Linked DNA regions of Homo sapiens. The protein of the gene in region 2 purifies or fractionates together with the protein of the main gene of each other region. This does not show direct contact. Each region holds a gene or a part of one and is shown on either strand. Other genes may lie near its edges.

The links. The genes of interacting proteins can lie anywhere in the genome.
Region 1: the proteins of DERL2 (region 2) and RTN4 purify together in Homo sapiens (affinity purification with mass spectrometry; 3 studies listed by BioGRID and IntAct, with this or other methods). This does not show direct contact.

What each region holds. Positions count from the first base shown.
Region 1 is NC_000002.12:55,026,452-55,033,497, forward strand, and holds part of RTN4 (reticulon-4), read right to left. Parts: intron 1,770-7,046; coding exon 1,713-1,769; intron 1,035-1,712; coding exon 1-1,034. UniProt on the Homo sapiens protein: Required to induce the formation and stabilization of endoplasmic reticulum (ER) tubules. They regulate membrane morphogenesis in the ER by promoting tubular ER production.
Region 2 is NC_000017.11:5,470,720-5,476,190, forward strand, and holds the end of DERL2 (derlin-2), read right to left. Parts: intron 4,071-5,471; coding exon 3,965-4,070; 3' UTR 535-3,964; downstream 1-534.

The DNA.
Region 1 (7,046 bases), on a different chromosome or scaffold from region 2:
GCCTTCAGGCATGTTTGCCACGACTTCCTCAGTCACCTTTGTTAAATTATCTGTTGTGACATAATCTGTCTCAGAATCCTGTGCTGCTACAAGAAAAGGGTTTGATGTTTTGGTGCTAGTATTCTTCTCTGTTACTATTTGGGCCTTCTTTTCTTCTATTTTTTTTTCATCGGTCTTATTTTCTGAAGTAGGATCTCCTAACAAAGGAAAAATGTTTGTTGCAATGCTCTCAGTTGCTGCTGGGTTAAAGGGAGCACATGTGATATATGCTCCTGAACGATCCTTTATACCTTCTGGCGTACTGGGGAAAGAAGTATCATCATTACTACTCTCACTATCTTTTTCGTGATTAGTTTGCTCAAGGCTATCTGCAAAACATTTTTTATCCACTTTACTTTCCAAGTTGCTCTCGATTTTACCTCCAGCAGCCAACATATCACTATCTTCCTTACTATCTTTCACTTCCCATACTCGCTCAAATGGTTTGAAGTCTGCATATTCCTCCCTCATAGGAGCTTCCACTGCAACTCTCTTTTCATTAAAACTGTCTTTTGCTTTTTCTGAAGACACAACTTCATCCTCTTTAACCAATTTAGTAAGAGCTGTAGGTAACTCTTGTTGATTATGAAGGATGTTATTACTAACTAACTTCTCTTCTTCATCTTTATTTTTCACGATTATTTCTTCCCTAGGATTTGCTACTATTACGGCAGATTCTGCTTTTGGAGAGACACTGAACGATGATCCCATTTCTGAGTATTCTAATTCTGAAAACTCTGTTAAATCTCTATCTATGAGTAGAGTTTTTGCCTTCTCTGAGACCTCTTTAGAAGCTTCACTGACATTTTCTTGAAGTGTTCCTTCAGTGGGTAATACTGTTGACAAATTACCAAGGTATTCATGTTCTTTGAAAGAAGCGGCTGAGAGAGGAGACAGAGAAGGAAGAGAAGCAGCAGTTTCAAGCAGGACAGATGGGAAATCCTCTTGACCAGCCGAAATAGTGTTACCTGGCTGCTCCTTCAAGTCCATATTTTCTGTGACCATGGACAGAAAGGAAAGTTAGAGAATGCCAGTGTTCTCAGAGTTAATGCAAGTTTTATGACAGATCCAAAATAGTGTTAGTAAAGACTTACTGTTTACTAAAATGAAATGTTAATAGCAATTAATAAGTAACAATAGAGTAGACTTCAATCATTACTGAAAATATTAAGCTATTGTAAATATAACATATGCATGGCTACAGAGGCAATTACATGCTGTGCAAAGACAAATCAAGTCTGAGTAAACCTCAAATGTTATCAACTAAGATACTAATAGCTAGTTTTAGAGAAGAGAAGAATATCTGTGAAAAGAGTTTCGGTGACAGCATAGGAAAGAAGGGGCACTGGGTAAATGCCATAGACTGGTATTTATTTACAGGAAAGCCTTTCTGGCTATACTCAAACTGTATTTGGAGAAAGGGAATGGTAAATATGTAAATGTAATTCAAGGGTCCAAGAATTCCTTATGTACTTCCAAGTATTCATCAGATTTTGCTCATTTTTCCCTTGGGCATACCATATAAAATGCACATTTCAACTTTTCCAGTAGACAAAACATTCTCGGAACCATGCTAATTTTTAGTAAACCCAAACTACTCTGCATAGTGTTAACACACTAAAGAGTTAAAGTTAGAATACAGAGAGGATAAAAGGCTGGCAGAAAGAACTTGCCTGCAGAGGAGCGTATCACAGGCTCAGATGCAGCAGGAAGAGCAAAAAGGGTCTCATCTGAAAAACAAATAGAATATAACCTCAGCAGAAATAAAGACAGATTGAAAGGAGACTAAAGATAAGAGGAGCAAGCCAGGGTTCAGTTTGTAATAAGTTAACAAAAAACTTTACAGAGAAAGGGCCAAGATCAAAAGGAAGTCAGAAAAAGTAGTACCATTAATTCAGGTTAAATCATCATATGTATTATAAAGCTAATTAAATGTTATCCATAGAACCTATCATTTTTCAAGAGGCAATACAACCTGTTTATGTTAAAGAAACTTATGAATCAAAGTGGCTTTAAAATACTGTTCTACTTAACATATCACATCCCAAGCTTTCACTCAGGTTTTCACATAGGTAAATTGTCTTGTTCTATTCAGGCCAAAAACAAAAAGCTGAATTTGAATACAATTAACAACTACAAATGTTTAATCTTTTGTTATTGGCATATATTCAATTTAAAGAAACACTTTTAAAGAATTATGCATTTTCTCTTACATTCTAAGTTGTTACAGTCATTGTACATTGCTCTTTGAAGACATTAGTCCTGTGCCAATGTCCAAATGCCAGAGTCCAAAATACAAAAAAAAAAAAAATTAACTGCCTTTAGGATGACACCATTATTGGTTTTGCTTAAAATTAACCTAAGTGAGGGCTACTTGTTATTTGTATACACAACTAGTAAGTGAGAGACTAAGGCAATTCAATTCCAGAGCCCATTTCCTTAATCACTGTATGTTACAGAACTGAATGCTTATATTTCCTACAAAACTCATGTTAAAGCCCCAACCCCTAAAGTGATAGTATCTGAAGATGGGGACTTTGGGAGGTGATTAGGGTTAAATGCAGTCAGGGTGGGGCCCTGGGCCAAGGGGATTAATGCCCTTACAAGAAGAGACACCAGAGAGCTTGCTGTCATGCTCCCTGTCTCCCCAGGCACACACAAGAGGTCATGTGTGCACACAGTGAGATGGTGGTCACCTATAAGCCAGGAGAAGAGGCCTCAAAAAGAAATCTACCTTGCCAGCACCTTGATCTTAGACTTACCAGCCTCCAGAATTGTGAGAAGTAAATTTCTGTTCAGCCACCCAGCCTATGGTATTTTGTTACGGCAGCCCAAGCTAACTAATACACTCTATATTGGTAATATTAACTTTGTACAATGTCATCTTGTACCTGCAGTTGGGAGATCCTAAGCTAAAGATCTTCCATGGTTTACACTAGAGAAAGGCCTCTACCATCAGACAATTTGAAACAGCCTGAGAGATGACTGGAAGGTGATATTCCTTTAACAGAGAGAACCTAATAAATTTAGACAATTTCATCTGGATGGACAAGCTAGACAAGGCTGATCAAAACAGATAAAAATCCAAGAAATGTAGCTAACATGAATACGGACTTGTCTTCCAAGCATATTACCCTTAATGAATTAGGAGAGCTAACTTCACAAGGTCTTATATATTTTAGATAAATATATACTGGGCATGAAGTCATACTTAAAGGATTCCTAGATGAGGGTGATGACGGGAAATTTATGATGTGTGTTTAAAAGGGTTTCCTCCAACCTAGAGCACTAGGTAGGATGGGCTATCCAGTCAAAGGGGTAACATAATGGCTTATAAGATTTTTAAATAAAGTGCATATATATGTGTACACATATTTAAAAGATTACTTGCTATGTGATCTTAAATTACAGTTTCTCATTTGTAAAATGAAGGAAAGTTCCCTTCAGCTAAAATAATGAATTATTAGCTTGTATAAAACTGAAATTTGAGGGTCAAAGAGCAGAACCAAATAATTACGCAGCTGCTCCATCTAAATAACAGTTAACCAATTCTTAACAAAATGGTTGTCTTTTTTATCTAGACAATATAGTTAAAAGCCACTAATTCAGAGGCTAGTCTATCTGGAAAGTGAACTAGAAACATATATTACTGTTAAAGTTAGTGGGAAAACAAACTACATCTAAATTTGTGCCATAATTTTAAAGTATTTTTTTAATGTACTGTACTCTTATTCCTACCTAGTGCAATAATCTTTTATAATAAAAACTATATTCCTGGAATTTTTCTAAGTAAAAAAGTTTTCAAATTGGTATTTCAAAGATTCATTATGTTTAAGAAAAAAAGAAAAATCTTCATTTTGTAAAATGGGATTCGATCCAGTTACCCATAAAACAAGTACTACATTTCTAAAAGCTCTTTAAAAAAATCCAGAATAGTTAACTATCTTCTGGGACTTCAAGAATACAGTTCAGACTCCTAATAAAGCAATCACAGATCATGAAATTGAATTGCCTAAGTCCAAATCACAAATCCATCACTTACAACTGTAACTCTTAGCCTTTCTGTGCCTAATGAAACTTGTAAAATAAGGATAATAAGAGTACCCACCTAAAAATGTTGTGAAGGAGGGAGAGGGAAAGAAAAAAGAAGAAACAACTTGCCCTAAGTCACAGAACTAGGAGGCCAGAGGGTCAAAACATCTAATTCCCAAGTCTTTGTGCTTTATAATTATTATTATTTTTTGGCTAGGCTTCCTCAAAGCACGAGATGTGCTTCATCTTCTGAAGGATGTATTTATGTACAAGTGCAACTGGTGCAATCCTTCTTACTGTATCAGCCCCTCAAGTTAGTTCTCCTGAAACAAGGTAAATCGTCACCCAGTAAATACCTTGTAATTAGCAGAAATATTGCATTGATCAATTGCTTCTATTTTACAATGTAACAACATTTATAGAAACATTAATGTGGGACAGGTACTGTGCTGAGCCGGCACATTTGTTTCAGATGTTCATTCTGTTCTCAAAACTACCCTGTAAGGTAGGTACTACTGTTACCCCCATTTCACATACGAGAAAAGAGGCATTTAAATCATATCTAATTACAATACTACAAAAAACCTGCATTTTAAAACCATAGAACTTCTGCTTCTGGCTATGAGAGTAATTACAACAGACTAATTCTTCCAATATAAGCAACTAAAAATATGGGCAAAATACTAGAAGCAACTATCTTGAGACACTGGACAAGAGGCAGGACAGCAGTGTGAATCCTGAGAAAAGGGAAACCTGCAAGATGACTACGCTGCTTTCTGTCTGAAGGCACATTCTGGTCTACAGTACAGAGAGAAGCCTAAGAATACCGCACTCTTGCTAAGCTGAGGAGGCTGAGGAGTTGTCTGGAATTTGTGAGACAGGGTAACATACAAAGTAAAGCCTCACAGAAAAGGAGCTCCAAAAATCTGGATAGGGGTTCCTCTTAAACCTCTGGGTGAATACTACGCTGCATGTGCACAGCACAAGACTCGGCAAGGCCTAGCCAAGAAACCTATGGTAGAGCTGCAAATTAACTGGATTATATCGAAGGTCAGAAAGTGCTGAAGACCTGATCTAAAAATTCTGACCAGTCAGAAAGGAAAGATCTCTCTAAACACCTCAAGCAGGACTACTCTAAGCCTAAAGGATACTCTAGACCAAGAGTCAGCAAACCATGGCTCATGAGCCCATATTGTATTGGAACACAGCCACGCCCATTCACTTCTGTGCTGTCTATAACTACTTTTGCACAATAAAAACAGAGACGAACAGTTTAGACAAAGGCTGTATGGCCCACAAGCCTAAACTATTTACTCTAACTGGCCCTGTAAGTCTGCAGACCCCTACCTCTAGACCCACCCTAACTTTAAAATCAAAACTTGAAAGGATCAAAATGATTTTCCAGCAAATTAACTGCCTGCCAGAACAAAGTTAAAACCACCAAATCCATGACATGCAGTATAAAATAAATTAATGGACATGCAAAGCAGCAAGAAAATATGACCATAAATAAGAAAGAATAGCAAATATAAACAAACAAATAACGTAGACGTTGGATTCGCACTTTTTTTTTTTTGAGGCGGAGTCTTGCTCTGTCACCCAGGCTGGAGTACAGCGGGGCTATCTTGGCTCACTGCAACCTCCACCTCCCAGGTTCAAGCAATTATCCCACCTCAGCCTCTGAGTAGCTGGGATTACAGGTGTCTGCCATCACACCAAGCTAATTTTTGTGTTTTTAGTAGAGACGGGGTTCACTACGTTGGCCAAGCTGGTCTCAAACTCCTGACCTCAAGTGATCCGCCAGCCTCAGCTTCCCAAAGTGCTGGAATTACAAGTGTGAACTAACACACCTGGCCTGGATTAGCAAATATTAAAATGAAAATTAAAATAGCTATTAAGATATTAAGTACAGAAAAAGACAGACATATAGAGTAGACAGGGAATCTTGGTGGAGAAATATAGACTAAAGGACCAAATGGAGATGCTAGAATTGTAAATTATATTAACTGAAAATAATCACTAGATGAGCTTAAAGGCAGATTAGACAATACAGAAAAAAAGATTTATTGATAAACAAACTTAAAAAACAACAACAGAAAGTATCCAAACTGAAACACAACAAGGGAAAAGGGCAAGTGAAAAAAGGAACAGAGCCTCAGTGCTGAGAGACAATCAAGGAGTTAAAATACCTATAATTGCAGTCCCCTTAAAAAAAGCAACAGTGGCCAGGCATGGGAGCTCATGCCTGTAACCCCAACACTTTAGGAGGCCAAAGTGGGAGGACCACTTGAGGCCAGGAGTTGGGACACCAGTTTGGACAACACAGTGAGACCCTATCTCTACAAAAAACTTAAAAATTAGCCGGTGTAGTGGTGCACACGTGCAGTTCTAGCAACTCAGGAGGCTGAGATGGGAGGATCACTCAAGCCCAGGAGTTTGAGGCTGTAACAAGCCATGATCACGCCACTGCACTCCACCCTGGACAACACAGTTAAGACCCTGTCTCTTTAAAAAAGACTGAAGAAGTTAAAAAAAAAAAAAAAGAAAAAATGGCCTAAAATTGGACAGAAGTTGGCATTTTGAAAATACCAACCAACAGAGCCACAAAGCTCAATGTACTCCAAGCAGAATAAACACAACACCACAAAAAGGCACACCATAAGGGTCAAACTGAAAATCAAAGATAGAGACAACCCTAAAAACAGTCAGAGGAAAAAAGCAGGTAAACAACAATAAGAATGACCTCACCTCTCATTGATGTAATCCAAAAGGTAATGAACGCCTTTAAAGTTATGAAAAAACTGACAATCTAAAATTATATACAGATGATCCTCATTATTCATGGATTCCTTATTTGCTCATTTACCTGCTCACTAAATTTGTAGCCCCAAAATCCATACTTGCAGCACTTTCAGGACATGCAATGAGCAGAGCAGGCAAACCAGAGCGGGTCATCCAAAGTACAAGTTCCCAGC
Region 2 (5,471 bases):
AAAAGTACTGTCAAAACAAAGCACATAGGTAGGTAACAAATCTGTAGGTAACTCATCCATAATCTCTGGCCTAATGATCCAGCTATTCTATAGCCTCAAAGCTAAGAGGACCAAAGAGTGGAAAAATTAAGTCCTATATATGCATCAAGCCATGCTGCTCACATTTCTCCCATTGGTAGACTGAAATCTGCTGTTTCTCCTGAAGAAGTCTCTTGGGGTTCACCAGCTTTCATATGTAGATACTGACAAGCTAATAACTATTCAGAGAATATCCTGGTTCTTCCTTCAAACGACGAAGTGTCAGACACATTTCATTTTTAACTTGTCTGGGATGGTCTGTGGACTTAACTGGTCTGATCACGACCATAACAGCTGGTGGTCACCTTTGCTTTTCCGACCACCAAATTACTGCCCTTGATCATGTTCAGTTTCCCTCTATCCCACTTTCAGAGACAACCACAAGCTTCAGCAACTAGGCTCAAGCTTGCATGCATACACTTTAATCCCTCTATAATTAAAAATACCAGATAATACTTTGCTGATCAATAAACAAAGGTATTTATTCAGCACCCATGTGCCAAGCACTGTGCTAGGCACTGTGGTGGATACAAAAATTAAGACATGGTCCCTGCCCTTAAGGAGCTTACATTCTCATGAGGGAGACAAGACTAATATACATGTACCAGCTAGGAACAGTACAAGACAATATATAATTTGGCGTTAAGAATGTCATACAGACTTGAAGCTTTATAGGGATTCAGAGACAGACAATAAAATAGGCCTTAGAGTCAAGATTTTTTGAGGAATCAGGAACAAGGCCAGGCCTTGAAGAACTGAAGAGACTTAAGTTGAGGTCCCTGTTAGGTAGAAGTGGGAGTAAAGTTAAGAAAAAAACAAGTATGCATATAATGTAGGGGCTTACTAAGAAGTCACTGTGGATTTCTGAGCAGAGGAGTGACTTGATCATACAAGATTCAACAATTTTATTGCAAACTCATAAAATATGTTTAAGTAGCCTGGAGACATCCTACAGAACACAGAAAATAATGGCAGGATCATGACTAACAACATAGCTGGAACTCACCTGTCAAAGAAAAACAGCTACAACATAAAACACTGGCAGGATAGATGACAATAGTTCTAGGAAGCCCATTACTCAACATGGCAATAGCTCCAATGCTTCCTTATTTTCAGAGGCCCCAGAGACTGAGGGTTTCATTATCCAGACCCAGGACTTAGGTGTTCTGCTTCTAGAGACTACACAAGAGGTATGAAAGATATGAGGACATACAAGAGTGACACAGAAAAAACAAGAGGAAGAGAGAAACAAATAGAAATCCATACTGGAAAAAAACGCACCGAAATGTATATAAAATGTATCTCCTAAGGAGATGCAATTTGTATGTCCATTTATTTTTAAATGAACGTATACCGTATTTCCATAACAAACAAAAAACACTATGCTTTAGTCAAGTGTGCTTTTCAGTATCACTAGAAGAATCCAGGAATCCCTCAAATTATGTGTAAGGTTAGTTGGTTGGTCTCAAAATTCCATGTATCAAATCTCACTTTCAGTTTATTTGCATTGTGAAAGGGAAGTGTGTTCTGGAAGAACTAAGATTGAGAGGTAAATTGGGGAGAAAGTAAGGACTTTTCCTTATGTCCATTCAAGCACAGGTATCCTGTCAAGCAACACAGGGCTAGGAATGGTGGTTGTAGGGCTGGCCAAACTGATGAGAGGTGATTGAAATTACCACTGCTCAGGACACAGTGTAGTCAGTCACACAGCAGGGCATCCTGCCACTGGGAACTTGCACCCTATAAAATCGGAGAAATCAAAAACCCTGTAACTGCCTGCCTTTAGGCTGTATATTCAAAATGTATTTCCTGTTTTACCTAGTCATTAATGTATACAGATATTCCCTACTTAAATGAACAGTGAGTTAACAGATTTTAGGATTAGTATTTTACCACAAAAATGCCATTCATTGCATAACTCCAACTCAGGGAGAACAAATAAAACTAGAGAAACTCATTTCTAGCCCAAAAACAATTTAAAAAAAAAAAACAAAAAACAAAATTCTAACAAACGTCACTGATAAAGCGTTCTTGAGCAAAAACAAGATAGGATAAAACTTAAGAATCCCATAAGGATTATACATGCTAAGATTGGCTTTTAAACTTTGAAAACCTTTTTTAAACTGCTTAAAAAGCAGTCCCATAGACCCAGGTTCCATAAAATTGCAACAATCATATTCAAAGTTATTAGCAACATGTAAAATACTTAAATACCATTAGTTATGCAATTCCATTTAAAGACATTAAAACACTTTTCACTTCAAAAACAATCTGAAAATTCCTATTTAGGATGTCCATTATGTTTAAGCCTATGTCTATCTTTCTGAGGACAATGTCACATTCTGGAAAGCTACCCCTTAACAAAGGTTGAATGAACTACTACTAACAATCCACTTTTGGGAAAGGGACCTGTGCCTACATGCCGTTAATGAAAGCTGTTTGGAATCATCTCTTTCCTAGGGGTGCTCTTTCGACTCTTCCAGGTTCTGGAAGTTACTTAAGCAGTGTGAATGCAAACCTGCTGAGACTCAGGGAAGACTTAATATTTAGGGGAAGTATTTATTGAACCACAGCATTAAGTGTCTACTTCTGTGGACCCTGTCTAATTTCTACCTGATTGGGAAGGTAATCCAGGTACTTGGCTCTGAAAAGGTTCTTGAATTTTCACGAAGCAAATGACTAATGTTAACTAGCCAAAGACCCTGGAAGAACATATGCCTAGCTAACTGGTATCTGTTCGTCTGGCTCCAAAGTCAACATTCTAACTTGGTTTCCAAATCTAATGAAAATCTGAGACCCTGTCTCTATTTTTTTTTTTTAATTAAAAAAACAAAAAACAAAACAAAACAAAAAAGGCAAAAAAAAAAAAAATGGCTGGGCATGGTGGCTCATGCCTGTCATCCTAGCACTTTGGGAGGCTGAGGTGGGAGGATTGCTTGAGTCCAGGAGTTCAAGACCAGCCTGGGCAACACAGTGAGACCCCATCTGTATTTAAAAAAAAATTTTTAATTAAAACTTTTTTAAAAATAAAAGAAAAAAAAAGTCTAATGAAAATCTTCCTAGTTTTACAAAAATGTGGCCCTTACCAATCTTTCCCTGGATACTTCTTAATGGAGAAATGTAAGTAAAGCAAATAAGATGCCACATTAGCTTACAGCTGACTTTCCTATAGCTGAATTCCTACTGCTACAAGAACCATCCTCCCTCCTTTTTTTTCATGTTGTCTGACAAAGTTTGGCAAAACCCAGATGCAAAACAACCTATCCAGATGACAGAAATAAATCATCTTCCTGCTGAATCTTGCATTCTGAGTTAGTAAGATGTACACAACCACAGCATGACAGCCACGTATTTCCAATCCTGAAATGAAATCCAGTTAAAAGTTGTGAAGACACAGGAAGAACAGCTGTGTAAACTGTTCTGAGCTCAGATCTACGCAGGAGGGCTACAATACATTATCAGAATTTAAAAGATCACACACAAAAGCTTTAATACAGTGAGAGAAAAATGGAATTCCGTTTTATTTTGTCCTCTCTGAAACTTCCATTTACACCATGGCCTCATCTATCAAGAAGAGGAAGAAAAGGCTCTGCCTTATACCATAAAAATCAAGTACTCATGTACTTGTTAGAGGTGGCAGGATATTTGTTTCTCCAGTTTTTTGGCTCTAAGAAATTACACTTTCAGTACCAGTGTAGTGAGGAACCACTGGCAAACTGTTGGAAATGTCTTCTGGATTAGTCAGTGTACCATTTCATAAAGTGCTTCTGGAGTTAAAATCTGCCAAGCTGTCAAAAGTGTCCACACTTTTGCAACAAAGGATAAAAGATCCCAGTGGGTATCACCGAGTCCTTCCCAGCTGGGTCTCATTATTGGCACTGCTGCTTTAACCTCCAAGCCGCTGGCCCTCACCCCAGGCGAAGCCTCCTGGCCGTTCCTCAGGTAGTGGATTGTAATTTGGATCCTCATCTGGTGTATCAAAAATAGCTTTCCTAAAAGACAAGCAACAGATATAATTTGGTCCCAGAGTCATCTCAGGTCCAAAGTACTACAAGGTCAGTTCAGGCCCCATAGGGTTTCCACCAATAGGTAAGCATTACACCTGCCTGCCAATTAAACAGTTAACATATTGTAAGAGCATCTATAATTATTAACATTTACATTAGCTTTTATCTTTTACTGATTTTTACTACAAAAGCAATCCAAATCATAATAATTACAGAGAAGGAGGAAATAGAGATGAGCAAAATATCCTCAATTTCCAGAGGTAACTATTGTCAATGTTTTAGTTATTCTTTGGGAATTTTTACATTATGTCATTTTACAAAAGTTAGATCACACTACATGTTTTGTAACCTGACTTTCACATATTTATCATTAATGTTTCCCCATAACCAAGGTATCACCCAAGTGTGCATCAACAGGTGAATAAACAAAATACGGTACACACATATAATAGAATTTTTTTTTTTTTTTTTTGAGACGGGAGTCTCACTCTGTCGCCCAGGCTGGAGTGCCATGGTGCGATCTCGGCTCACTGCAACCTCCGCCTCCCGGATTCAAGCAATTCTCCTGCCTCAGCCTCCCGAGTAGCTGGGATTACAGGCGCCCGCCACCACGCCCGGCTGATTTTTGTATTTTTAGGAGGGAAGGTTTTCATCATGTTGGCCAGACTGGTCTCGAACTCCTGAACTCAGGTGATCTGCCTGCCTCGGCTTCCCAAAATGCTGGGATTACAGGCATGAGCCACTGCACCTAGTCAACATGGTGAAACCCTGTCTCCACCAAAAATACAAAAATTAGCCTGGCGTGGTGGCGCATGCCTGTAATCCCAGCTACTACTCAGGCGGCTGAGGCAGAAGAATCACTTGAACCTGGGAGGCACAGGTTACAGTGAGCTGAGACTGCTCCATTGCACTCCAGCCTGGGCGACAGAGCAAGACTGTCTCAAAAAAAAGGAAGGAAATTCAGGCACATGGTACAACATGGATGAACCTTGAGGACTTTACGCTAAATGAAATAAGAAATAAGCCAGACAAAAAAGGACAAATATTGTATGATTCCACTTAGGTACAGAGTAGTCAAATTCAGAGAAAGAAAATAGAATGGTGATGGCTGGGGTGGGGAGTTGTTTAATGAGTACAGAGTTGTAGTTCTGTAGGATGAAGAGAGTTCTATGGATGGTGGTGATGGCAGCAAAACAGTATGAATATACTTAATGCCACTGAACATTTAAAATGAGTTAAGATGGTGAATTTTATGTTAGGTATTATTTTACCACAAAATTTTTAAAAAATTAACAAGGTATCCCAAGAAAAATTACTGCAGAACATAGGAGGGGATAGTAAATGTCCAAAAGACTCCCTAAGTACTATGATGTAGTAATTCAAAAC